Homo sapiens: one gene and its partners. The gene in region 1 interacts genetically with each later gene. Each region holds a gene or a part of one and is shown in the gene's direction. Other genes may lie near its edges. The genes, in order: PTEN, IFIH1, RAD54L, SERPINB6, ZC3H7A, ENO2 and SUV39H1.

The links.
Region 2: changes in PTEN (region 1) and IFIH1 impair growth when combined (synthetic growth defect), as found in Homo sapiens cells (one large-scale study listed by BioGRID).
Region 3: changes in PTEN (region 1) and RAD54L together harm fitness more than expected from each alone (negative genetic interaction), as found in Homo sapiens cells (one large-scale study listed by BioGRID).
Region 4: changes in PTEN (region 1) and SERPINB6 together harm fitness more than expected from each alone (negative genetic interaction), as found in Homo sapiens cells (one large-scale study listed by BioGRID).
Region 5: changes in PTEN (region 1) and ZC3H7A together harm fitness more than expected from each alone (negative genetic interaction), as found in Homo sapiens cells (one large-scale study listed by BioGRID).
Region 6: changes in PTEN (region 1) and ENO2 impair growth when combined (synthetic growth defect), as found in Homo sapiens cells (one large-scale study listed by BioGRID).
Region 7: changes in PTEN (region 1) and SUV39H1 impair growth when combined (synthetic growth defect), as found in Homo sapiens cells (one large-scale study listed by BioGRID).

The regions. Positions count from the first base shown.
Region 1 is NC_000010.11:87,929,625-87,933,124, forward strand, and holds part of PTEN (phosphatidylinositol 3,4,5-trisphosphate 3-phosphatase and dual-specificity protein phosphatase PTEN), read left to right. Parts: intron 1-1,421; coding exon 1,422-1,465; intron 1,466-3,388; coding exon 3,389-3,500. UniProt on the Homo sapiens protein: Dual-specificity protein phosphatase, dephosphorylating tyrosine-, serine- and threonine-phosphorylated proteins.
Region 2 is NC_000002.12:162,284,185-162,287,684, reverse strand, and holds part of IFIH1 (interferon-induced helicase C domain-containing protein 1), read left to right. Parts: intron 1-3,500.
Region 3 is NC_000001.11:46,261,263-46,264,762, forward strand, and holds part of RAD54L (DNA repair and recombination protein RAD54-like), read left to right. Parts: coding exon 1-123; intron 124-3,500. UniProt on the Homo sapiens protein: Plays an essential role in homologous recombination (HR) which is a major pathway for repairing DNA double-strand breaks (DSBs), single-stranded DNA (ssDNA) gaps, and stalled or collapsed replication forks.
Region 4 is NC_000006.12:2,965,068-2,968,567, reverse strand, and holds part of SERPINB6 (serpin B6), read left to right. Parts: intron 1-1,977; coding exon of another isoform or gene 1,978-2,168; intron 2,169-3,500.
Region 5 is NC_000016.10:11,776,759-11,780,258, reverse strand, and holds part of ZC3H7A (zinc finger CCCH domain-containing protein 7A), read left to right. Parts: intron 1-895; coding exon 896-1,093; intron 1,094-3,349; coding exon 3,350-3,500. UniProt on the Homo sapiens protein: May be a specific regulator of miRNA biogenesis. Binds to microRNAs MIR7-1, MIR16-2 and MIR29A hairpins recognizing the 3'-ATA(A/T)-5' motif in the apical loop.
Region 6 is NC_000012.12:6,920,889-6,924,197, forward strand, and holds the end of ENO2 (gamma-enolase), read left to right. Parts: intron 1-692; coding exon 693-894; intron 895-1,167; coding exon 1,168-1,276; intron 1,277-1,455; coding exon 1,456-1,514; intron 1,515-1,641; exon of another isoform or gene 1,642-1,842; coding exon 1,843-1,912; 3' UTR 1,913-2,809; downstream 2,810-3,309. UniProt on the Homo sapiens protein: Has neurotrophic and neuroprotective properties on a broad spectrum of central nervous system (CNS) neurons. Binds, in a calcium-dependent manner, to cultured neocortical neurons and promotes cell survival.
Region 7 is NC_000023.11:48,703,234-48,706,733, forward strand, and holds part of SUV39H1 (histone-lysine N-methyltransferase SUV39H1), read left to right. Parts: intron 1-3,031; coding exon 3,032-3,178; intron 3,179-3,264; coding exon 3,265-3,394; intron 3,395-3,500. UniProt on the Homo sapiens protein: Histone methyltransferase that specifically trimethylates 'Lys-9' of histone H3 using monomethylated H3 'Lys-9' as substrate. Also weakly methylates histone H1 (in vitro).

The DNA.
Region 1 (3,500 bases):
TCTTTCTAGAAAAACTCAATATACTAAATTGTACTAAAAAGGAAAAGCTTGTTTTGTTTTGAGTGGTAGTATGAAAGTTGTTTTATTTTAGGTCTGACCAGTTAGAAACCAATGGATTGTAGTTTATTTATAATTAGTTAAACCTTCATGTGAATTTGGTTTTGAATTACCTTTAAGGTAGAGAAGAAACTATATAGATGTTTTTCAGGGTTTCTAAATGTACAATACAGGTTCACAATCACTTATTTGAAACTCTTGGGGCCAAGTATGTTTCCATTTTCAGAAATTTTAGTTTTCAAAAGGTAGCACAGATAAATATACTTTTACATAAACACCCCAGTGGGGTGTGGGTCAGTACCTGAAATGAAATGTTTTACTCTTCGCTCTAAGTGTATTAAATATTATGTACAATCTTATTACTTCAGATCAGGATTTGCTGTAGTTGAGTTTGCCATAAAACTTAAGAGAAAATTTTAGATGTTTTGAACTTTTGGGATATTGAAATTGCAGGTTAAGGAGCTATGGACCTTTATTTGTTTTAAAATGCTAAGAGTTTATTTTAAGTAATTTTTAAAAAATTTGTTTTGCATAGTAGTTGGAGTTACCAGGGTACTGCTAACCACACTGATATGTAAGATCTCTTTCTGAGCCTTTTATTGTTTGTAAACATGGCCTGTTAATCATTAGAAAGCCAGTACATACTAACATATCACTGCTATTAAGACAAATATTAGCATACTCTAGTAATGACAAGTCAGCATTTTACTATTCTGTATTGATTTTACTTATTCTTTCATTACTCTCATACTGTAATTAAAACTTGCAATCTGAGAGACTGTTGAAAAAGGTGATCGTTGGCTTTTCAACAGGGAGTAAGGTCTGGTTTAAAAAAAAATTAGTAAGCATTTGGCCAAGTAGATTAACAACATTCAGTTTTTCTTTACTGTCCTTATGCTTTTACTATTTTTAACATATATCTTTTTGAAGAATAGTTTGAGAATTATGTATGCTTAACTATGAGATACAGATACTATTGAAACTAGTCAGTTGTTTATAGGTACTTGTAAAATTAAAAATATATTCCAATAGCATGCAGATTTTTCATAGAGGAAATTTGAAAGCATGGAAGCACCTGAATTTACAGTACTCTGTATTAGTGGCATCACAAGTTTTTAAGCAAATGTATTAGCTCTAATTGCATACACTTAATCTTTTAAGCTTTGGTTTTATTATTATAATATGGGGGTGATAACAGTATCTACTTAATAGAATTCTTGTTATTACATGAAATAATTAATGTTAAACACAGCATAATATGTGTCACATTATAAAGATTCAGGCAATGTTTGTTAGTATTAGTACTTTTTTTTCTTCCTAAGTGCAAAAGATAACTTTATATCACTTTTAAACTTTTCTTTTAGTTGTGCTGAAAGACATTATGACACCGCCAAATTTAATTGCAGAGGTAGGTATGAATGTACTGTACTATGTTGTATAACTTAAACCCGATAGACTGTATCTTACTGTCATAACAATAATGAGTCATCCAGATTATCGAGTGAGATACATATTTAAGAATTATCTTTAAAAATTTCAAAAATTTTAATTTTACTGTTGTGTTTTAGGAAAAAGTATTGCATAAAGCTATTAATATTGTCAGGAAGACTAAAGTGCAGCATAGACTAAGAATTAGGAAAATTCCTAGACTAAAAATAGTATAAGGAGAGGGTTTACCTACTATTTGAGGCAGTTGGTCTAATAGTAAGCAATCACAGGGAGAAAGCAGAACTACTTAACTCTTCTGTGTTGAGGAATGACATAAAAGGTAGGAAAGGATATAACAAATGTTGATAAGAGGAGTCTGATGGATGAGAGGAGGGAACTGCTTTAAATGAGTTTCTACTTCAGACATAAGTTAATTCTCAGAGCCCACAAAAACTTTCACTTTTATTTGTGAAATACAACTCAGTTCTCATGGCTTAACACTTTAAACCATGAGAAAACTGAAGAGTTGAGAAGCTTGGCAGATGCTGCTGTGATAGTCAAAAAGAAAGTGGGTGCCATGAGCTACTATTGATGTATTTGCCATTGATCCCTCCTGAAAATCTAGAATGGACTTTCAGACAAATGGTTTGAAAATTCTAAATCACTAATGATTGAGATTTAGTATAGGTTTACTAAGAACGGGTTTTTTTTGTTTTTGTTTTTGGTGGATTTAGGCTGTTGCTTACTAAGCAAAGCAGGCTTTAGTTGAGGTTTATCTTGCTTTAAACAGATATTTAACAGATTTTCCTGGAGGTTTTTGTGTACCACTGGGAAAATGAAGTTAGGCAGATGACTAAGTGAAAGCTGTCCTGCTGACTCCTTATAATGATAGTCATTGTCTACCAGAAGATCTCTCCTGTCACACCAAAGGATAATTGATTATATCCTGTACCATATTATGAGTCACCTGATTGGAGATATAAGACATACTTCTCACATATTTAGATGACACAGGTTAGTACATTGAATATCAGCCAGGGTTTTTAAGGATCTTAATAGAGTGGAACTAAGGTAGAAACTATTAAGAGCAATTAATAGTGATATATCTATAGTCCTGTTTCTAAACAAGTTTTTTTAAAAACCTCAACTCTGACTATAGTGAACAGAGAAGTCTTGGACTCTTACAATTCATGTGAGAAGACCTGAAACTTTGATAACAATTATATACATTTTGTGAGTAATTTCTTTGGTGTATGCCTTCACATATCTCTGGTATGTGACCTATGCTGCAGTCCATTGAGCATAGATTCCCAGAATGTATTCTCCTGCAGAAAATGGAGGAAAATAATACTTGGCTTCCCTAATGATTACATGTGTATACAACACTAACATTTGCAAGACCACCTTTAAATAACACACTTAGCATTTTTATTTTATGAAATGTAATATGTAGTTCTTTGCATAGTTTATCCTATTAGTAATCTATTCTGTCTTTGGAATATGTTTTGTGATGATGAAATAAATACTATAAATAGTATTATTCCTTTTGCATTGAGAGTCCTGACGAAATGTCCATGTGACAGTTCATTTTGGGTTTAGCTCTACCTCTAATATGTGACCTATGCTACCAGTCCGTATAGCGTAAATTCCCAGAATATATCCTCCTGAATAAAATGGGGGAAAATAATACCTGGCTTCCTTAATGATTATATTTAAGACTTATCAAGAGACTATTTTCTATTTAACAATTAGAAAGTTAAGCAATACATTATTTTTCTCTGGAATCCAGTGTTTCTTTTAAATACCTGTTAAGTTTGTATGCAACATTTCTAAAGTTACCTACTTGTTAATTAAAAATTCAAGAGTTTTTTTTTCTTATTCTGAGGTTATCTTTTTACCACAGTTGCACAATATCCTTTTGAAGACCATAACCCACCACAGCTAGAACTTATCAAACCCTTTTGTGAAGATCTTGACCAATGGCTAAGTGAAGATGACAATCATGTTGCAGCAAT
Region 2 (3,500 bases), on another chromosome or scaffold:
GCAAGTCCTCTTTCTCCAGAATACATATAATGTGGTTTGGAGATAAAATTAAGTGAAGGTTTGGTATCTACATCAAGTTAAATAGATTTTAAAATGCTCAAGAAGTATACATATATATATATAAAATATACACATATTACATTAAATGCAACTGAAGTTTTCCTTCAATAATTTATATCTTAGGGTATTTGAAGGCCATCTTCATAAGTAAATATGTCTGCTTCACCGTAAAACAAAATCTAGTCATTTGAGCTTTATTCAGATAAATGACAGTTTATTAATTTATAAATATACAAATTGGGGATATGAATATTTACTATTTTATGGAATAAAAATGAGCATACTTTTCCTTGATCAGAAAGTCTTTTTTCTGTTCTTATCTATTCCTTTATAAAAAAAAGCAGTAGACTGTAAAATATTCTATTTTTTATTTCTATTATGCTAAAAGTTTTAGTTACATCCTGTTTTTCAGTACTTAGAATCCATGATTTGAATGATTCCTATCATGTAGTTCCAAATGCATTTTGTGTGCATCTGCTAAGTCCAAAGAGCTCTCCTTTATACTTGTATACTTACTATTAAAACACTTTTATTTATTTTGCTGGTAATGGTGACACATTCAAATTTGTTTGCCGATAGACTTGCATATGTATTCCCTTTGTACAGGATATTATTTTTTTAAATGAAATAGGTTTGAATCCTATTTCTACCTACCGGTACTTTGAATTAGACAAATTAGTAACTTCTCTAACTTTAATTTCTTCATCTGCAAAATGAACAAAATAATAACTACCCTGCTCTGAAATTTCAATTGGATTATATATGGCCTAGTAATGACTCCTGCTTTTACTCTTAAATACTAGCTTTCTCCTGCTCCTTTCTCTTCACCTTCATAACTCATGAAACTAAGTAACATAACCAGGGAGGCTTTTAAGTGCCAAATCCAAAGAAAAGAACCAAGTTAACTGGATTCAAAGCTACTTAAACTGATAATTTTGAAACCATTTGAGCATCTGCCATTTTCTCAAACTCAGCCTCACCATCTACCCTCCCAAAGGCTCCTCTTCCCCATTTACCTGTCTCTTTGTGAGTAATACCACCTCCTCCAAAGCATGCAGCCCCCACACCTAGGAGTTAGTTTTAATTCATCTACTTCCTTTATTTCCCTTATCTGGTCACAGGGACATAGGCTAATAGAGTTGAAAAGGGGCTTCGAGATTCAGCTTTCTTCCTTTGCAGAGTGGTTCTCTCACTTCTGCAGGGTAACTTCCTAATATCAAGGAGGTCCCCCTACTAACAAGACACTGACACTCTTAGAAAGCCCTATTTGTATTCATCCAAATCTGTTTCTCTGGAATCCCACAATCACCGGTTAGAGTTCCTTCCTCTGCAACCACACGAAGTCCTAATTCTCCAGCCTAATGACAGCCCTTCACATAGACAAGGCAGCATCATGTGGCTCCTAAGTTACTTTTTTTTGTTGTTCCTTGGAATAAATGTCCACAGTTCCTTTAACTGTTTTCCATATAACATGGTTTCTAAACCTGTCATCATTCCTAGTGCTCATACTCCTTCAGACATTTTTCTGGGACACTCTTAAATGCGGTGTCCAGAGTTGGGCAAAATACTACAGATAAGATCATACCAGTGCAGAGCGTAGGAGACATGAGATATGACACCCAGCTTATGACCGCATTTGCCTCTGGCATCCACAGACTTATCTGGACCTTGTCATAGAATCAAAATCCTCAGTTCCTTTTTATTTGAAAATCTCTTAAACTAGAACATTCTTAATTTATTTTTGTGCAGTCAGTTTCTGAGCCTAAATTCAAATACTTAGGTTTATTTCTTTAACTATTGATCTTTTCAAGTCTCATATTTTTGTATGTGTCTGATGCATCTTCCTTTCTATAATATTCCCTTCTCTTCTCAATGCTATATTCTAGCCAGGAATCTTTCATTGCATTGGATCTACATGATTCTTCGGAATGCACATTTATGGCTATGTTTAAATATTAATTTATCCTCATTAATTATTCACATTCACTGCATTGTTGTGTGGACACCTGGGGACTTGACTCTAATTCCTTATTGCTTTTCTATTGTTTTTCTCCTTAGAATTACTAGAAATCCCTCCACTAATTCTTCCATCTATGTCATAATTGTTTACTATACCATCTTTTTGAATTTTAAATTAATTTCAGTTTTAATTCTTTTTGATTGAGTCAGAACACCTCTGGCCCAGTAAGTCTAAGTAACCTGAATCTTGTGTTTGGCCCAACAACAAGGTATTGTTACCCTTGATCTAGAAAAAAGAAATCCTGTTCTCTAACACCATTTACTTTCATCTCCCTTCCTCCGTCCTTTCCAAAGTTATAGCCTTCGAATGCAGAGAGAAATGAAAACACCACCTGTGTTCCCAGACTTTCCATTTCCTATCTAGGGCTTCAACATCATGAGAGATAAATCCCAGGTTCCTTCAGATGCTGCAATGCAGCCCCATATGATTCAGCAGAAGTGGGTAGCAGTTGGGTTTGATTAGTCTTGGCAGGCACTCTGTCACATCTCAAGAAAAGGCTCCAAGAGGACCACACACCTCCCAATTAGCCATGTCAGACTTGCATCTGGCTTTCTCTGTGTCCTTCAGTAGGAAGTCAACACCACCCAGAGCGAGTATCAGGATTTCCAGCATCTGCTATCTCCTGTGACAACTTCTTTTTGTTCTGTACATCAGAAGGTGCGGCTTCTTTTGAAGATTTTTGACTCACCTTTTATGGGCAGAATTTTGTGGTGCAATGTCACTCCATAATACAGAGATTCTTAATTAAATCATTCAGCATGAGTGTATTTAAAGACAAATCAAATGTAGATCTTGTCCTCACGAAATATACAGTCTAGAAGAAAGATGAGAGATATATGTTGATAATATGATAATTAATATTTTATTGCACTTTATAAAGCACTCTCAGATATATTATCTCATTAAATCTACACAGCAACCCCATAAGGTAGTCTTTATTATTCTCATTTTTTCCCATCAGAAAACTGAAGTTTCAAGACTTTAATTGGCAATTCAGGGATCATCCAGCCAAGAAACAGCAGAAATGAGACACGAACTTTTATCTTCTGAGTCCACTGGTCTTCCTTTGCCACTGCACCCTCCTTCTAGAATAAAAGGATTGGTGAAATATCGTGGAAGTTTTAGTACTGACAATACAGCATCCTCTATTTCATTTAATTTTCACAACCCTATAATAGGTTAACATTATCCTCATTTTATTAATCTGGAAATTGAGAGCATTAAGATGATTGAGACCTTGTCCAAGGTACAAAGAAGTAAGTGGCTGGAGTAGCTGTTTTCAGGGCTTTCTTCCCTCTGCATCATGCTGTCTCTTTCCACTAAACTTAATTTCCATTCTTTTCCTCAGAAGCCTTCTGTCTTGCATAAATGAAATGGAAAGAATACTTCTAGAAAATGATTCAAGAACGGCTTTGTGGAA
Region 3 (3,500 bases), on another chromosome or scaffold:
GGATTCATGAACCAGCGTGGAGCCAGGGTGTCTTCTCCCATCCTCATCATTTCCTATGAGACCTTCCGCCTTCATGTTGGAGTCCTCCAGAAAGGAAGTGTTGGTCTGGTCATATGTGACGAGGTACTTGACTCTCAGCAGTCTGGGTGGTAGGAGAAAATCTGTCAAAATCTCTTCACTGAGTATTGCCTTCCAAGGGCTGTGCTAGTCACTGGGGAATGCTGAAGACAGGATGCTGCCTTGGAGACAAGTGACAGGGAGAGCCTGTGATACCAAAATACAAGATACTGTCTGCCAAAAGAGGGCTGAAACAATGCTTAGAACCCTGAGGAGAGTGAGATACTGGGGGCTGATTGGCTTTGTTGCCTCCGGATAGTATTCCTAGACTAAAGAAGGACCTTGAAGGGTGGGTGGCAATGTTTAGAGGATATAAATCAGAAAGTGTCTGAGACAAGTCTCAATTTAGAGATTTATTTTGCCAAGGTTGAGGATGCTCTGGGGAAAAAGAGACACAAGCCAAAGTAGGATCTGTAGCCTGTACTTTTTCCAAAGAGGTTTTTGAGGACTTCAATATTTAAAGGGGGGCTGGCCACGATGATTCACGCCTGTAATCCCAGCACTTTTTGAGAGGCTGAGGTGAGTGGATCACTTGAGCCCAGGAGTTTGGGACCAGCCTGGGCAATATGGTGAAACCCCACCTCTACTTAAAAAAGATAAAAATAGTCAGGTTTGGTGGTGCACCTGTAGTCCCAGCTACTCAGGAGGCTGAGGTGGGAGAATCAGCTGAGCCCGGGAAGTAAGCTGAGATTGCGCCACTGCACTCCATCCTGGGTGATGGGGTGTGAAACCCTGTCTCAAAACACACATATGACCGGGCGCGGTGGCTCACACCTGTAATCCCAGCACTTTGGGAGGCTGAGGCGGGCGGATCATGCGGTCAGGAGTTTGAGACCAGCCAAGATGGTGAAACCGTGTCTCTACTAAAACTACAAAAATTAGCCGAGCGTGGTGGTGGGTGCCTGTAATCCCAGCTACTCAGGAGGCTGAGGCAGGAGAATCTCTTGAACCCGGGAGGTGGAGGTTGCAATGAGCCTAGATAATGCCACTGCACTCTAGCCTGGGTGACAGAGCAAGACTCTGTCTCAAAAAAACAAAATAAAAACCAAAAAACACACATATACACAGACACACATGACCCTTTCTCAAAAAACAACACCACACAAATATGCATAAAGGGGCAAGAGCAGGCAGGAGGGAAAGAGGAGCCATCAGTTATGCATTCAGCTCAATAAATCTGATTTTACATACAGTTAAGTAAATAAAGAGTAGAGGAAGAAGTCAAATACACATTTGTCTGGGAGGGAGGATTTCTAGTCTTGTCTTTGTCCCCTGCTTGTAAAGATGAGCTGTTTTTTTACATTGTCAGGGTGAGGGAGGCCACCTGGGGAGAGGCATGGCGTTCTATCTGCAGCTATCTGTTTAGGAACAAAAGGAAAGACATTTTTTTGCTTGACTAGTTCCCAAGCTTAGCTTTTCCCTTTGGCATAGTTTGGGGTCCTGAGATTTTGTTTTCCTTTCACAGGGAACAGGTTCTAGAGTTAGAGACCTTTATTTGTATCCTGGCTCTGCCACTGACCAGCAGTGTGACCTTCAACAAGTTACTTTATCAGCTGAACCTCTGTTTCTACATCAGTAAAATGGGGTGATAATATCTGCCTCATAGGATTATTGTGAGGATTAAATGAAATTATTAAGAAAAAGCTCTTATCGCAGTGCCTGGTATGTCATAAGGCCTTGGCAAACGTAAGCTCTTGGTGGTTATTCCAGGCTGGGGGTACTTGCAAGAACAAAAGCAGAGATAAGAAAGTCCATACACCTTGTAGTAGTAGTTTGTGTTGACTTCTTGTTTCTTGTTTCTGGAACTAAGGGAATATGGCCGTAGTTACTTCCTGGCCTTTTCCAGTATGTGTGAATGGCAATAGAGAGGCTAGTACTTAGGAAGCAGTGAGGGTGGCTGGGAGCTTCCTACTATAGAGAATTTCCCAGGACTTCCCAGTGGGCTTGGCGACCCTGAGGCTATAGTCATTGTTTGCAACTTCTTGGGAGAGTTAACCTCCTTTGTATACCCCAGAGGTTCTAGTGGAGAGGTGGCTGAAAGACTTGGCCCTATCTGTCAACCAGTTGTCAGGCTAGGCTCAGCTCTGGGTACTGTAGATTAGCCCAGTTGTCTGAGGAACTTCAGAGAGGGGACAGAGGGAAAAAGCTTGCTTTTGGGTACCATGCTTTCTAGTTGTGAGCTATTTTCTGGTCAGTCATTGGCGGGTCTTCAAACTCCCAACTTCCTGGTAGGAGTAGGGAACTTACCAGGTTGAGGTGAGGTATGCATGTTACTGCCCTGTGGTTCAAGGCCCTGACATCTGCTTCATCACTGTGGAGGGGGACTATGCCAGGAGCCAGGTCCAAAGCATTGTGGGAGAGGAAGGCAGGCTGTAGCTGTTGAGCCTTTGAGGATTAGGGAGCATCTAAATTTTTTTCTACTTTTTGTTTTTTTTTGAGACAAGGGTCTTGTTCTGTTGTCCAGATGGAGTGCAGTGACGTGATCTTGGCTCACCGCAACCTCTGCCTCCCATATTTAAGTAATTCTCCTGCCTCAGCCACCCGAGTAGCTGATATTACAGGCGTGCACCACCACTCTGGCTAATTTTTGTATTTTTAGTAGAGATGGGGTTTCACCATGTTGGCCAGGCTAGTCTCGAACTCCTGGCCCCAAATAATCTGCGGCCTTGGCCTCCCAAAGTGCTGGGATTACAGGTTTGAGCCACCGTGCCCAGCCTTTTTCTACTCCTTAGTGTTTTTTTCTTCCCCACTCTGTCCTGTTTTATGAGCTGACTCTGTGCAGGGCACAAGGGATGAGGCTGCCTCTTATCACACTGCAGCCCCTTGGCTGTTTACCTTTCTACTTGTTTACCTTTTATTTTGTCAACTGTCAGAGATCTGAGGAACCAAAAGTCCTGAAAAGATGGTCACCTTACTCCAGGGAAGGAGAGGGTTTGTCCTGTTCAGACCCTGGAAAGGGAAGGTGCCATTTCAGGCTTTCATGTTCTCAGCTCCCACAGCATCTTCCTCCCAGTAACGCTTTTCTCTGGAACACAGTTTTTCATAATAACTTCTATGTACAAAATCTTTGATCCTCAATCAAAAGACACGGGATCAGCTCTGGCTTTGCCACTTACAAGCGTGACTTTCCACAGATGAGACTGCTCTGAGATTGTTTCTTCATCTGTAGAGTGGATGGCACATGGGCTACTTGAAAGGGATATGATACAGATCAAGAGAGGATATATGGGAGCACTTTGTACAAGTGTATAAATAGCAGAGGGATTGACGTCATCGTCATCTCAATCTTAAAGATTAGGAGACAAACTCAGGGAAGTGCGTAGTGACTTGCCCAGGTTCTCCTAGCGAGTACATAGTAAGCTGGAATGTGAATGCAGGTGTGA
Region 4 (3,500 bases), on another chromosome or scaffold:
GTATAGAAGGCAAAATGGAATCAAATATCATGATGAAAAGTGTAAATGAGGGAATAAGGTCAGAAGAGAACATTCATTTATATGATTTCTTCTTTTTTTTTTTAACCTTTTAAACCTCTATTTAGGTTCAGGATACATACGCAGGTTTGTGACATAGGTAAACTCATGTCGCAGGTTGTTGTGCAGGTTATTTCATCCCCCAGGTACTAAGCCTAGTACCCAATAGTTATTTTTTCCTCTCCCTCCTCCCACCCTTCACCCTCCACCCTCTGATAGGACCCAGTGTTTGTTGCTCCCCTCTTTGTGTCCACGTTCTCATCATTTAGCTTCCACTCATAAGTGAGAACATGCGGTATTTGGTTTTCTGTTCCCTGCGTGTGTTTGCTAAGGATAATGGCCTCCAGCCCCATCCATGTTTCTGCAAAACACATGATCTCATTCTTTTTTATGGTTGCATAGTATTCCATGGTGTATATGTACCACAATTTCTTTATCCCATCTGCCATGCATGGGCATTTAGGTTGATTCCATGTCTTTGCTATTGTGAATAGTGCTGCGGTGAACATTCGCGTGCGTGTATCTTTATGGGAGAATGATTTCTATTCCTCTCTCCTCTGGTTGTATACTCAGTAATGGGATTGCTGGGTTGAATGGTAGTTCTGTTTTTAGCTCTGAGGAATCGCCACACTGCTTTCCCCAATGGTTGAACTGTTTTACACACCCACCAGCAGTGTGTAAGTGTTCCCTTTTCTCCACAACCTTGCCAGTATCTCTTAATTTTTGACTTTTTAATAATAGCCATTCTGACTGGCGTGAGATGGTATCTCATTGTGGTTTTGATTTGCATTTCTCTAATGATCAGTGATACTGAGCCTTTTTTCTTATGGCTGTTGGCTGCATGAATGTCTTCTTTTGAAAAGTGTCTGTTCATGTCCTTTGCCTTCTTTTTAATGGAGTTGTTTGTTTTCTTCTTGTAAATTTGTTTAAGTTCCATATAGATGCTGGATATTTGACCTTTGTCAGATGCATAGTTTGTGAATATTTTCTCCCATTCCGTAGGTTGGCTGTTTACTCTGTTGATAGTTTCTTTTGCTGTGCAGGAGTGCTTAAGTTTAATTAGATCCTATTTGTCAATTTTTGCTTTTGTTGTGATTGCATTTGGCATCTTTGTCATGAAATCTTTGCCTGTTCCTATGTCCAGAATGGTATTGCCTAGATTGTCTTCCAGGGTTTTTTATAGTTTTGGCTTTTACATCTAAGCCTTTAATCCATCTTGAGTTGATTTTTGTACATGGTGTATGTAAGGAAGGGGTCCAGTTTCAGTCTTCCAGAGCAGAACTTTCTAACTTGTGTGTGGGTGTTGTGCCCTGGGCAGGTTAACAGATCCCTCCAACTCGAGGAGTCTGGGTGGCTGGAGCTCTGCACTGGTCACCTTTGGGGTGAGTAGCCTGGCCCCAAAGTGACATACAAACATCATTTTCTGTGTGTGTCACAGCCTGGAGAAAGGTGAGAAGTCCCAGATGATATCAGTCTAAGAGTTTTGTACTTGACAGAAAAAGAGAACAAAGAGCCAGTCTGGAGGAAATCAGCAAGTGCCTTACATTTTTTTCCCAAGCTAGGCTTGGTGGCTCATGCCTATAATCCCAGCACTTTGGGAAGCCAACGTGGAAAGATAGCTTGAGGCCGGGAGTTTGGGACCAGCCTCGGCCACCGAGCGAGACCCTGTCTCTACAAAAAATAAAAATGAACTGGGCGTGGTGGTGTGCACCTATCATATCTAGTCTTTGGACTAGAAAAATCTAAAATGGTTTGGTAAGACTTTGCTGTTGCTTTAAAGCAATGGTCCCCAACCTTTTTGGCACCAGGGACCAGACTGGTTTTGTGGAAGACAGTTTTTCCACTGATAAAGTTGGGGGTATGGTTTCAAGATAAAACTGTTCCACCTCAGATCATCAGGCATTCGATTCTCATACGCAGCATGCAACCAAGATCACCACGTGCACAGTTCACCGTAGGTTCACTCTCCTACAAGACTCCAACGCTGCCACTGACCTAACAGGAGGTGGAGCTCAGGCGGTGATGTTCGCTCACCTGCTGCTCACCTCCTGCTGCGTGGCCCAGTTCCTAACAGACCACAGACGGATCTGCTGGGGACTCCTGCATATAAAGTAAGTGTGTTTGGAGGGAAAGTAACTAATTTAAAGAGATTCCCACCAGCCAATTAGAACAAGAAGAAAAAAAAACATCAGCAAATTGAAATATATTGTTTGTAAAAAGCCCAAGCTCATTAATAAGTTCAGATGAGGCAAACAAGATGAGCCTTAAAAAGGCACAAAAGAATTCAGTAATGTTTGCACTGTGTCTAGGATTGCTATGGAAAAAGTTTAGTTATTATAGCTTCCTGGGCTAACAAACACAGTAGTTGTAAAAACCAACTTAAAGGCCTAAACATTCAACAAAAAGACCAAGTTATACCATACAACACTGGTCTATGCAACTCAGATAGAGGAAAACTCCGTATTTCATTTTAAGGAAGGACATCAGGCTACAAGACACTGAAATTTGGTGTTTGGTTGAGGCCTTATAAAATCTCAGTGAAGGCAGGATTGGAGCTCAAAGCTGCCCTAACTAGTCAGATATGCTTGGCATCAAAGAGTGTGTGCCCTGTGCTGAGAAACTGCTTTGATGCACAAAGACCATGAACCAGGGAGCCCCACCCTGTTTTTACAGAAAGGGATGATCCCTTAGGATTTAACCCCATAAGATTAATTTTCCCCATAGGAAACTGTTAAAATAAGCATTAGTGTTACCTTAGGAAAGGAATAGGAAAATATAACAAAGATAAAATAATTAAATCTGTGATATTAATGAATAACTTTTGCTAGACATAAGTACAGGTATAGAAATAAGTTTTGTAATCATTGTACTGTTTGAAAGTCTTAGGAGAGGCTAGCTTACTAGATTTATATGTCTTGATTTATCAGATTTGTAGAAGTTCAAAAGTCTACTAAGGTTTGTGCAATTTGTAAGTTTGCATAAAGCATTAAAAAATTAGACATATTAAAATATGTCATCAACACTTAAATAAGAAAAAATAATTTCTTTGCCCTGTAAGCAATGTGCTGTGTTTGAGAAAAAAAATTAGTCTGACCAGCCTGCCAAACTATAAATTGGCCATGTATTATAGTAGGGAAACTTGTCCCCGTCTATGAACATTTCTCTTCGGCGTGAAAGTCGCGCATGCTCAGCAGCATGGTGACAGACGGAGGGAGAGGAAAATGCAGCTGGTAGATTATTCCTTGTGTCGAAGCATATGAAAAAAGTACTGAAAGGGTTTGACTGACCTGTAGAACATTTGGGGAGAATTTGAAAATACATAGTACATAGAAAACTAAGGAAAGGGGGGAAAGGCACTATTAATATAAGGCAAATCAGCATTACATAAAAAGGAAATGGGTTCCCATCCCACCACCTGGCTTAGCATCGAATGCTATTTAGTG
Region 5 (3,500 bases), on another chromosome or scaffold:
ATCCCAGCTACTCGGGAGGCTAAGACACGAGAATCACTTGAACTCAGGAGGTGAAGTCGCAGAGAGCCGAGATCGTGCCACTGCACTCCAGCCTGGGTGCCAGAGTAAGACTCTGTCTCAAAAAAAAAAAAGAAAAGAAAAAAAAGAACTAAACTAAAGCGTGATAGAAATAATGAAGGAAAATGACAAACTTTTATACATGCTAAAAGAATGTGTATACTTACTTGATAAGAAAAAAGTTTAACATCCCCCTCCCCCCAAATCAGTAAATGACCTGAGCAATTTACAGAAAAAGAAATACAAGGGGTCCGTAAAAATGTGGAATAGTTCAACTTCACTGGTAAAGACATGCACATACAAAGAGGATACCATTAAAAAAAATAAATAAACACAAAACGATACCATTTTCCACCTAGAAATTGGTAGATTTTACATATATGTGCACGGGTACCCACACACGTGTACACACACACACACTACCTAGTGTGTATGGGTGCTATAAAGTAAACCACTAGAAACATTTTTCATCATGGCCTTTTTGGAAGGCAATTTGGAAATACTGCTCAAAAGCCTTAAACTATTCATTCTCTTTGACTTGGGGCTTCCACTTGGTTTCTCTAGCGGGCACAGAATTGGAGATGTGAACAAATATTTATAAGGTACTTTGCTGCATTTTTCTTAATAGTGAGAAATTGAATTTCCCCTTGAAAAAGCAAGCAAGATTCAATCCCTAGCTGAGATAGCAGTGACTTGGGCTGCATCTCACAATTTCTTAGAGCAATGCTGCTGTTCTGTCACATTGTTTCCTGTGAAGTTTTAGGTATAAAAATTAAAATTTACTTATACCATATCTTGTTTGATAAAAGGCTTCAAGTGGTAACTTTCTTTTTTTTAGGTATATTTGCGTGCTCTCGTGAGAAATCTTTTTAATGAAGGAAATGACGTTTATCGGGAACATGATTGGAACAACTCGATAAGCCAGTACACGGAAGCCTTGAATATAGCTGATTATGCAAAATCTGAAGAAATTTTAATCCCCAAAGAAATAATTGAAAAACTATATATAAATCGTATTGCCTGCTATTCTAATATGGTGAGTTGTAATTTTTAAAATGATGTTTCTAGAGTGAAAAGAATTTTTTCAATGACTTAGTACATTAATAAAAAGTCAATTTCTTAAGTTTTTAAGAAAGTCATATTACCTGCTTTTGGAGTGGCTTGAGGCTTTTAAAAATTAGCTTTGGATTGGCCGGGCACGGTGGCTCACGCCTGTAATCCCAGCACTTTGGGAGGCCAAGGTGGGTGGATCATGAGGTTAGGAGTTTGAGACCAGCCTGGCCAATATGGTGAAACCCCGTCTCTACTAAAAATAAAAAAATTAACTGGGCATGGTGGCGTGTGCATGTAGTCCCAGCTGCCCGGGAGGCTGAGGCAGGAGAATCGCTTGAACCCAGGAGGCGAAGCTTGCAGTGAGCCGAGATTGTGCCACTGCACTCCAGCCTGGGCGACAGAGCAAGACTCCGTCTCAAAAAATAAAATAAAATAAAAAAATAAAAATTAGCTTTGGACAGAAGGTTAGGGATTTAAGAAATAATTTGTTTCTTAGTTATTGGTCCTTGATGATTCCCATTTGAGTATGGCTTTTGAAGGTGTGTCTGCTTATAAAAAAGTCATCCAGGGAAGATACAGGTCTTCACAGGTCAGTGTGTCTTTCAGGTATCCCTGTTCACAGTTAACATCTTAGTCAAGATCCAGTTGATCTTGTAAAACACTCTTGGTAAAAAACACTCTTACGAGTGTTTTTTTTTTTTTTTTTTTTTTTGAGACAGTGTCTCGCTCTGTCACCCAGGCTGGAGTGCAGTGGCACGATCTCGGCTCACTGCAACCTCCGCCTCCTGGGTTCAAGCAATTTTCCTGCCTCGGCCTCCCGAGTAGCTGGGACTACAGGCGCATGCCGCCGTGCCCAGCAAATTTTTTGTATTTTGTTAGAGATGGGGTTTCACTGTGTTGCCCAGGCTGTTCTCGATCTCCTGAATTCAGGCAATCTGCCCGCCTCAGCCTCCCAAAGTGCTAGGATTACAGGCGTGAGCCACCGTGCCTGGCGAGTGTTTTTTTAAATCAAGAAATAGTAATTAGTCTTCAAAGGAATTCACACTAGATTTTCACATTTTTAAGCTTAAAAGCTTTTGAAGTGCTTTTTTTTCTTTTTTTCCTTTTAAAACTTTTTTTTTTTTTTTTGAGACAAGAGTTTCACTCTTGTTGCCCAGGCTGGAGTGCAATGGCACAATCTTGGCTCACCGTAACCTCCGTCTCCCGGGTTCAAGAGATTCTCCTGCCTCAGCTTCCCGAGTAGCTGAGATTACAGGCATGTACCACCACACCTGGCTAATTTTGTATTTTTAGTAGAGACGGGGTGTCTCCATGTCGGTCAGGCTGGTCTCGAACTCCTGACCTCAGGTGATCTGCCCGCCTCAGCCTCCCAAAGTGCTGGGATTACAGGCATGAGCCACCACGCCTGGCCACCTTTTTTAAATTTTTGAGATGGAGTGTCACTCTGTTGCCCAGGCTGTAATGCAGTGGCACAATCTCGGCTTACTGTATCCTCTGTCTCCTGGGTTCAAGTGATTTTCCTGCTTCAGCCTCCCGAGTGCTGGGATTATAGGCACCCGCCACCACGCCTGGCTAATTTTTGTATTTTTAGTAGAGATGGGGTTTTTACCATGTTGGCCAGGCTGGTCTCGAACTCCTGACCTCAGGTGATCCACCCACCTCGGCCTCCCAAAGTGCTGGGACTACAGCTGTGAGGCACTGTGCCCAACCTGAAGTGCTTTTAATTTTCACTGTGGATACTCGGTAAAATATAACCATGAATTTAAGAAAAATATCCGTGTTGTCACCTAGCTCTTTGTTAAAGAGCATTCATTGTTTATTTATTTTGTTTTGGGTAATATATTCCTTATCAGTTAGCTGTTTGGAGTTACGTTTCTGTTTGACATCTTAATGTGCTCCAGCAAAGGGTAACTACAGAGGAGCGAATAGGAGAGGGACACATGGGGACATCAGTTAGGTCTGGAAAGCTTTATTTCTTGAAGATCTGGGGACTTTCTGACCAAATATTAGCATTTGTCTGACCTGGATGGTGTGTACATGGGTATTCATGATATTCTTTCTACTTTTTTGTATTTGAAATTTCATAAAATAATTTAAAAAATAAAAGTAATACTGCTAACTTGGAGTTTAGAGGGAGGGTAATAGGATGGGGTATTAATTTGTTTTTATTACAGGAAGGCCTCAGTGCAAGAAATGAATTGTTTGATTGCTGACTTTATTCTTTGGTCTTACACACCAGGGTTTCCATGATAAAGTTTTGGAGGACTGCAATATAGTCCTCAGTTTAAATGCCAGTAACTGCAAAGCTCTGTATCGGAAATCTAAGGCTTTAAGTGATTTAGGAAGATACAAAAAGGCTTACGATGCTGTAGCAAAGTGCTCCTTAGCAG
Region 6 (3,309 bases), on another chromosome or scaffold:
CTGCACGATTCTCTTAGCCTCCCAAGTAGCTGGGATTACAGGCGTGCACCACCATGCCTGGCTAATTTTTGTATTTTTAGTAGAGATGGGGTTTTACTATGTTAGCCAGGGAACTCCTATCCTCAAGTGATCCGTTCACCTCAGTATCCCAAAGTGCTGGGATTACAGGCATGAGCCACTGTGCCTGGCCTCTCCATGTAAGGTTTTATGAAATAAGAATCAGGAGCCAGGCGTGGTGGCTCATGCCTGTAATCCCATTACTTTGGGAAGCCGAGGCAGGAGGACTGCTTGAATCCAGGAGTTCGAGACTGGCCTGGCAATACAGTGAGACCTCATCTCTACAAAAATTTTAAAAATTAGCTGAGTGTGGTGCCACACACCTAAAGTCCCTGCTACTCAGGAGGCTGAGGTGGCAGGATCACTTGATTGGGGAGGTGGAGGTTGCAGTGAGCTGAGATTGTGCCACTGCACTCCAGCCTGGATGACAGAATGAGGCTCTGTCAAAAAAAAAAAAAAAGTTAAGAATCAGTTAGGGCAGGCTTACACTGGGGGGATTTGTCTTAGCAAGGATGAGCAGGTGTAGTTAACCAAGGGCCTGTCCATTTCAGGGAATAAAGGGGCATGTTCCTGCCTGATGTAGAGACCCAGGGAAGATGAACACCTCCCCCCTCCCCACCATGCTCTCTCTGCAGTGGTCTCCATTGAGGACCCATTTGACCAGGATGATTGGGCTGCCTGGTCCAAGTTCACAGCCAATGTAGGGATCCAGATTGTGGGTGATGACCTGACAGTGACCAACCCAAAACGTATTGAGCGGGCAGTGGAAGAAAAGGCCTGCAACTGTCTGCTGCTCAAGGTCAACCAGATCGGCTCGGTCACTGAAGCCATCCAAGCGTGAGTGACTTCTGGCCCTCTCCTGTGTGGTCCTCGTTTCTATAAGACTCCTTTTGCAAGTGCTCCAGCCTAATTCTACCCAGGGGTGCCAAAGAGAGCGGGGAACCTGGAATCATCCTCACAGTTCTCTCACCTCTGCCCCTCCACCCCTGATTCTCTGCTCCCCTCCCAGATAGCTTTCCCCTAGATGTTTCCTGACATAGACCAAGGTTGGGGCTGGGAAGAGAGTGCCCAGTGTGAGAGCTGGAGAATCAGTGCTGTGTGTGGATACAGGTGCAAGCTGGCCCAGGAGAATGGCTGGGGGGTCATGGTGAGTCATCGCTCAGGAGAGACTGAGGACACATTCATTGCTGACCTGGTGGTGGGGCTGTGCACAGGCCAGGTGAGTGAGGCAGCCTGGTGAGTGAAGAGAACTCTCTGTGGGATTGGTATTTCTAGCTCACCCACCTGGTCTCTCCTTCCAGGTGTTTGAGGGTGTCAGGGGAGTTTCAGGAGAGCAGAAGTTTCCTTTCAGGGGTGAGAGGGCAGTCACTGAGCTGCAAATCCTTTGAAATGTTTCAGATCAAGACTGGTGCCCCGTGCCGTTCTGAACGTCTGGCTAAATACAACCAGCTCATGAGGTGAGGGTCCCTGGGGTGGGAGCCCCTGGCCCAGATGGCTAAAGGCCCCATTTGCCTGCCAGACCATCTGTAGCACCAAGGGCCTGGATAACAGTCCATTTCCTGGATAACAGTCCAACAGATAATATTGGTTTTTGCTTCCTGGGTTTATTGATGGCCTGATTGACAAATCCCAGAGATCACATGGGAAAGCCAGGGAATGCTAAGCCTTGGGGCAGGACACAAAAGCAGGTGGTGTGGGGGTGGTTGGAGTCTGGGGGACCCCTAGAGAGAGAAGCAGGATCCTCCTGCATCCCTGACCACTTCCTTTGTGGTTCATCTCTCTCAGAATTGAGGAAGAGCTGGGGGATGAAGCTCGCTTTGCCGGACATAACTTCCGTAATCCCAGTGTGCTGTGATTCCTCTGCTTGCCTGGAGACGTGGAACCTCTGTCTCATCCTCCTGGAACCTTGCTGTCCTGATCTGTGATAGTTCACCCCCTGAGATCCCCTGAGCCCCAGGGTGCCCAGAACTTCCCTGATTGACCTGCTCCGCTGCTCCTTGGCTTACCTGACCTCTTGCTGTCTCTGCTCGCCCTCCTTTCTGTGCCCTACTCATTGGGGTTCCGCACTTTCCACTTCTTCCTTTCTCTTTCTCTCTTCCCTCAGAAACTAGAAATGTGAATGAGGATTATTATAAAAGGGGGTCCGTGGAAGAATGATCAGCATCTGTGATGGGAGCGTCAGGGTTGGTGTGCTGAGGTGTTAGAGAGGGACCATGTGTCACTTGTGCTTTGCTCTTGTCCCACGTGTCTTCCACTTTGCATATGAGCCGTGAACTGTGCATAGTGCTGGGATGGAGGGGAGTGTTGGGCATGTGATCACGCCTGGCTAATAAGGCTTTAGTGTATTTATTTATTTATTTATTTTATTTGTTTTTCATTCATCCCATTAATCATTTCCCCATAACTCAATGGCCTAAAACTGGCCTGACTTGGGGGAACGATGTGTCTGTATTTCATGTGGCTGTAGATCCCAAGATGACTGGGGTGGGAGGTCTTGCTAGAATGGGAAGGGTCATAGAAAGGGCCTTGACATCAGTTCCTTTGTGTGTACTCACTGAAGCCTGCGTTGGTCCAGAGCGGAGGCTGTGTGCCTGGGGGAGTTTTCCTCTATACATCTCTCCCCAACCCTAGGTTCCCTGTTCTTCCTCCAGCTGCACCAGAGCAACCTCTCACTCCCCATGCCACGTTCCACAGTTGCCACCACCTCTGTGGCATTGAAATGAGCACCTCCATTAAAGTCTGAATCAGTGCACTGTTGTGTCTAAGGAGTCTTACTCTAGTCCCTATGAGGGGAGAGAAGATGGAGCACCTGGAAGCTGGTGAAACTGGATAGCAGAGCTGGGGGGGCACAAAAAGAGGAAGACAAACTGAACAAATATGGCCGAGATGATGGCACTGCCTACCCCATTCTGGCTAGGTGGGGTGCATGTGGCCCCTGCTTTCTTAGCAGAAGGCTTGGCTCCCAGACGCAGGTGAATTAAGGGGTTCAAGAGCCCCTAAAAGCATAAAATATTTTGTGTGTGTGTGTGTGTGCACGCGCATTTTGGGGGAAAGGGGGTCTAAGGTGTTTTCATATCCAAAGGGCTTGTGGACTGGAGCAGCTCCTGTACTGGGCCTCTGCCAACAAAACCCTGGCTGGTTCTCGAATGGAACAGGACTTCATGGCCATCACCCACTGCAAGATGGGGAAATGGGAAGGAAGAATGGTTCCGGGGGTAGTATACGGAAGGACCTAAGGAAACAGAGTCCTCA
Region 7 (3,500 bases), on another chromosome or scaffold:
CCCAGCCTGACCGGATAGGGTCCTATTTGTAGTTTTTATTTATCCTACTTGGGGTAATAGTCATACATTTCGTTGCAGCAGTTCTAATTTACTTGATTCTGTAGTGCCGTCCCAGATGCTGCCAGGGTGTTACGGAATCAAGGGCCTATCTGCACACCATGCTATCTACTGTCCTTCTTCAGCTGGGACATGTACTGACAGTCTGTACCAAGAGCTCCCTCCACGGGAGCTGCCCTTCCCTCCTTTGCAGCCTCCCACATTGGGTCAGAACTTTCACGTTCCTGCAGAACATTCCCATCCTCACCCAAGAGACAATGCCAGCCTATTTTATCCATTCTAAAACATGCATTTTCTTCCTATTTTAACATCTCGGAAATGAAGATGTCTTAATTAAATCATGGTGTATCATTTATAATTAACAGCAGTTTTTCCTTTCTTGGTAAAGGGCACATAAAATTAAGGGTGTGCCTTACATTTATAACTGGTCCTCATAACCACTCCTAACATTGCTCACTCTCCTATCAGAAACAGGAACACCTTTCACGTCCATGATCTTGTATGGATCTTTACAACAGCCCCTGTCAGGTTGGGATTTTGTCACTGTCATTCCCATTCTGCAGATGAGAAAACTGAGGCCCAGAGAGGTAGAATAACTTGATTAAAATCACAAAAGTAGTACAATGGATAAAAAAATAAAGGCCCAAATAATATCTAAAACTGGTACCCTGCCAGGCTGTAGCTTTTTTTTTTTTTTTTTAGCTGAGGAAACAGGCACAGAGAGAACATTCAGGATCCCATATCCAGGAGGGGGCAGAGCAGCAGCTGACTCCAAGTCTTCTAGTTCCCATTCACGTCAGCACCCTCTCGGAACTGCCAGCTTACAGCCTGTCTTTTCCATTCATTCTGGAGAGCTGTTAGGGAGCAGAGACAGGCCCATCTGTTCCCAAGCTTTCAGGGTTGACCAATCATTAGAGAATGGGACTGAAAAGAAGATGAGAAGGAACCAAGAAGTGTTTGTGCCCTGGAGGGCCTGCAGTATGACTCACTCCTGGTGAGACTGGGAGAGCAGGTAGTGGCAGAATAGGCATGAAGATGGAGACTAGGAAGGATGTGGGCACTCCTCCTGGCTCAAGGAGGGCCTACGGTGAAAAAGATGGCTCATACCCCACCCACTAGGCCTGTGAGCCTGGGAGAGGCTGCCCTTTGATCCCAGGACTTGATCAGACAAGTGGCCAGCTTCTGAGGTAGGGGAGGAACGGGAAGCTTGGAAGGCTGCCTAGAGAGGTCCCATCTGTTTGAGCTGATGCCACAAGGAAGACTGTTCTCCAGGAGGTGAAGGGAGACTGATCTTGACATATTCCACCCTCATGTTGTGGCCCTTAGGAGAGAGTCCCCACTCTTCCACCAGGTGGTAAAGCCCTTTTATGATCTGCAACTCGTTTTAGAGAATCCGTCTCTTCTCCATTCCCCCTCAAGCCCTAAGCACTGTTTCCTGATCACAGTCTTACACTGTGGGTGTGTGAATCTGTCTCTCTGTGACCAGACTTTGACCCCTTGAGGGCAGGGACCAATCCTGGTTCCTGTGTATCCCCTACCCACCTGTGACCCCTGAGAGTGGACCGGGCCTGGTCCCTGTGTCTCCCTGATCAGACCGTGAGCCCTGCATGCTGGGACTGGGCACAAGGAAGGCCTCAATAAAAACCCTGGCAAGGGAGCCAGGTTCCTCAAGGAACAGAACTGGAGCACGGGGCAGTGGGTAGTGTGGCCCGAGGCAGGGTAAATCTTGGTTTCCTCAAGGCATTGTTAGTCAGCCTTTGGCATGGAACACAGCCTTGAGGGGACAGCCAGGGAGAACACCAGTGTGGCCATCCTAGCTAAGGAGATGGATTCCCAAGTCAGAAGGGCATGGTCACCGGCCCACATGAGGGTGAGCAAGGAAGGAAGCCCGAGAGGGGTCTCTGGAGAAGGGAGGGGAAGGAAGAAGTGTGGCGGGGGAGTACTGGAGCTACCTGGAGGGCCGCCACTTGGACAGAGGACAGGCTGCTAAGCCAGGAAGCAGAATCAAAGTAAACAGCAGTCCCCATGTGTCTCCTGTGTGCTGTGCACTGTTCTTGGCTGAGGTACAGTGGGACCCCTACCCAGGGAAGGGCCTGGTCAGCTACGCTTGGGGATTGGCAGGAGGCTGCCGTTGCTGGCCTCAGGGAAGAGGGGCCATGGGGCCGGAGATTTGTTGGCGTGGATTGGGAGGCAAGGACAGGCTGGGGCTAGGATGGCAGCAAAGCTTCCCATTTCCTAGGACAGGTAGGGAACCAGCTGGGGAGGAGGCACCCACTGCCGTCTGAAGCACCAGTTGGCACTGCGCAGCCCTGGGCCGAGGGAGAGCTTCTCTCACTGTGCTCTCCCTTCATCTTTCCTCCTCCTCTGCTGCTGTCTCTGAAGTGTGTGGCCTCAGCCTCTTTCTGGCTCTCTGAACCTGGGCCTCCCTCTGCCTCTGCCTCCACCTCTCTTGTCTTGAGGCCCTTGCCCCCTTTCCCCATGGCCTGGGTCTCTTCTTCCCCTCTCTCCACGCCCTCCCTGCTGGGTCCTGCATGGGCTCAGGCTCCCTTGCCTGGATCAGTAAGTATCTCTCCCTGTGGCACCCTGGGTCACTTTCTTTCTTGCCCTTGCTTTGGTCTCTCCTGATCACCTTCCTGCTCCGTCCCAAGGCACTGGAGGCTCCAGGGGTTCTTGGGCAGCTCTTGCTGGGTGGCGGCAGGAGGTGCTCGCGTGGCCCCAGTTGGGCCCTGCAGCCAGGCCAGCCTGCACTCACCGCCAGGGACTCCTCCTGCTAGCCAGAGGCCTGAGGCGGGCCAGGCAGTTGCCAGCTGAGGCCCAGCTCCTCAGGAAGGGCCGACAGACTCTCTGCGTCACTGCCCATGTGTGTCCACGGGCAGGGGTGCCTCCTGCTCCCTGTCCTTCAGAAGTCAGGAGCAGTGCCGGCTTTCCTGAGACTTCGCGGCCAATCTCCCCTTACCCATGGCCCTTTCCCTAGATCATTACCTCAGAGGAGGCAGAGCGGCGGGGCCAGATCTACGACCGTCAGGGCGCCACCTACCTCTTTGACCTGGACTACGTGGAGGACGTGTACACCGTGGATGCCGCCTACTATGGCAACATCTCCCACTTTGTCAACCACAGTGTGGGTACCCCCGGCAGGCGGGCAAGGGGTCGAGAGGGGCAGGCTGGAGCCCCTCCTCACTCTCCCAACTGTTCTTTCTCGCCCAGTGTGACCCCAACCTGCAGGTGTACAACGTCTTCATAGACAACCTTGACGAGCGGCTGCCCCGCATCGCTTTCTTTGCCACAAGAACCATCCGGGCAGGCGAGGAGCTCACCTTTGATTACAACATGCAAGGTGGGGGTGGCAAGGGACTGGGGGCAGGGGCGCACTGTGACTTGGGACACAAGGACCCCTCCCAAAGGCACACCAGTCACTCAGAGAACCAAGGAAAATTCTTTAG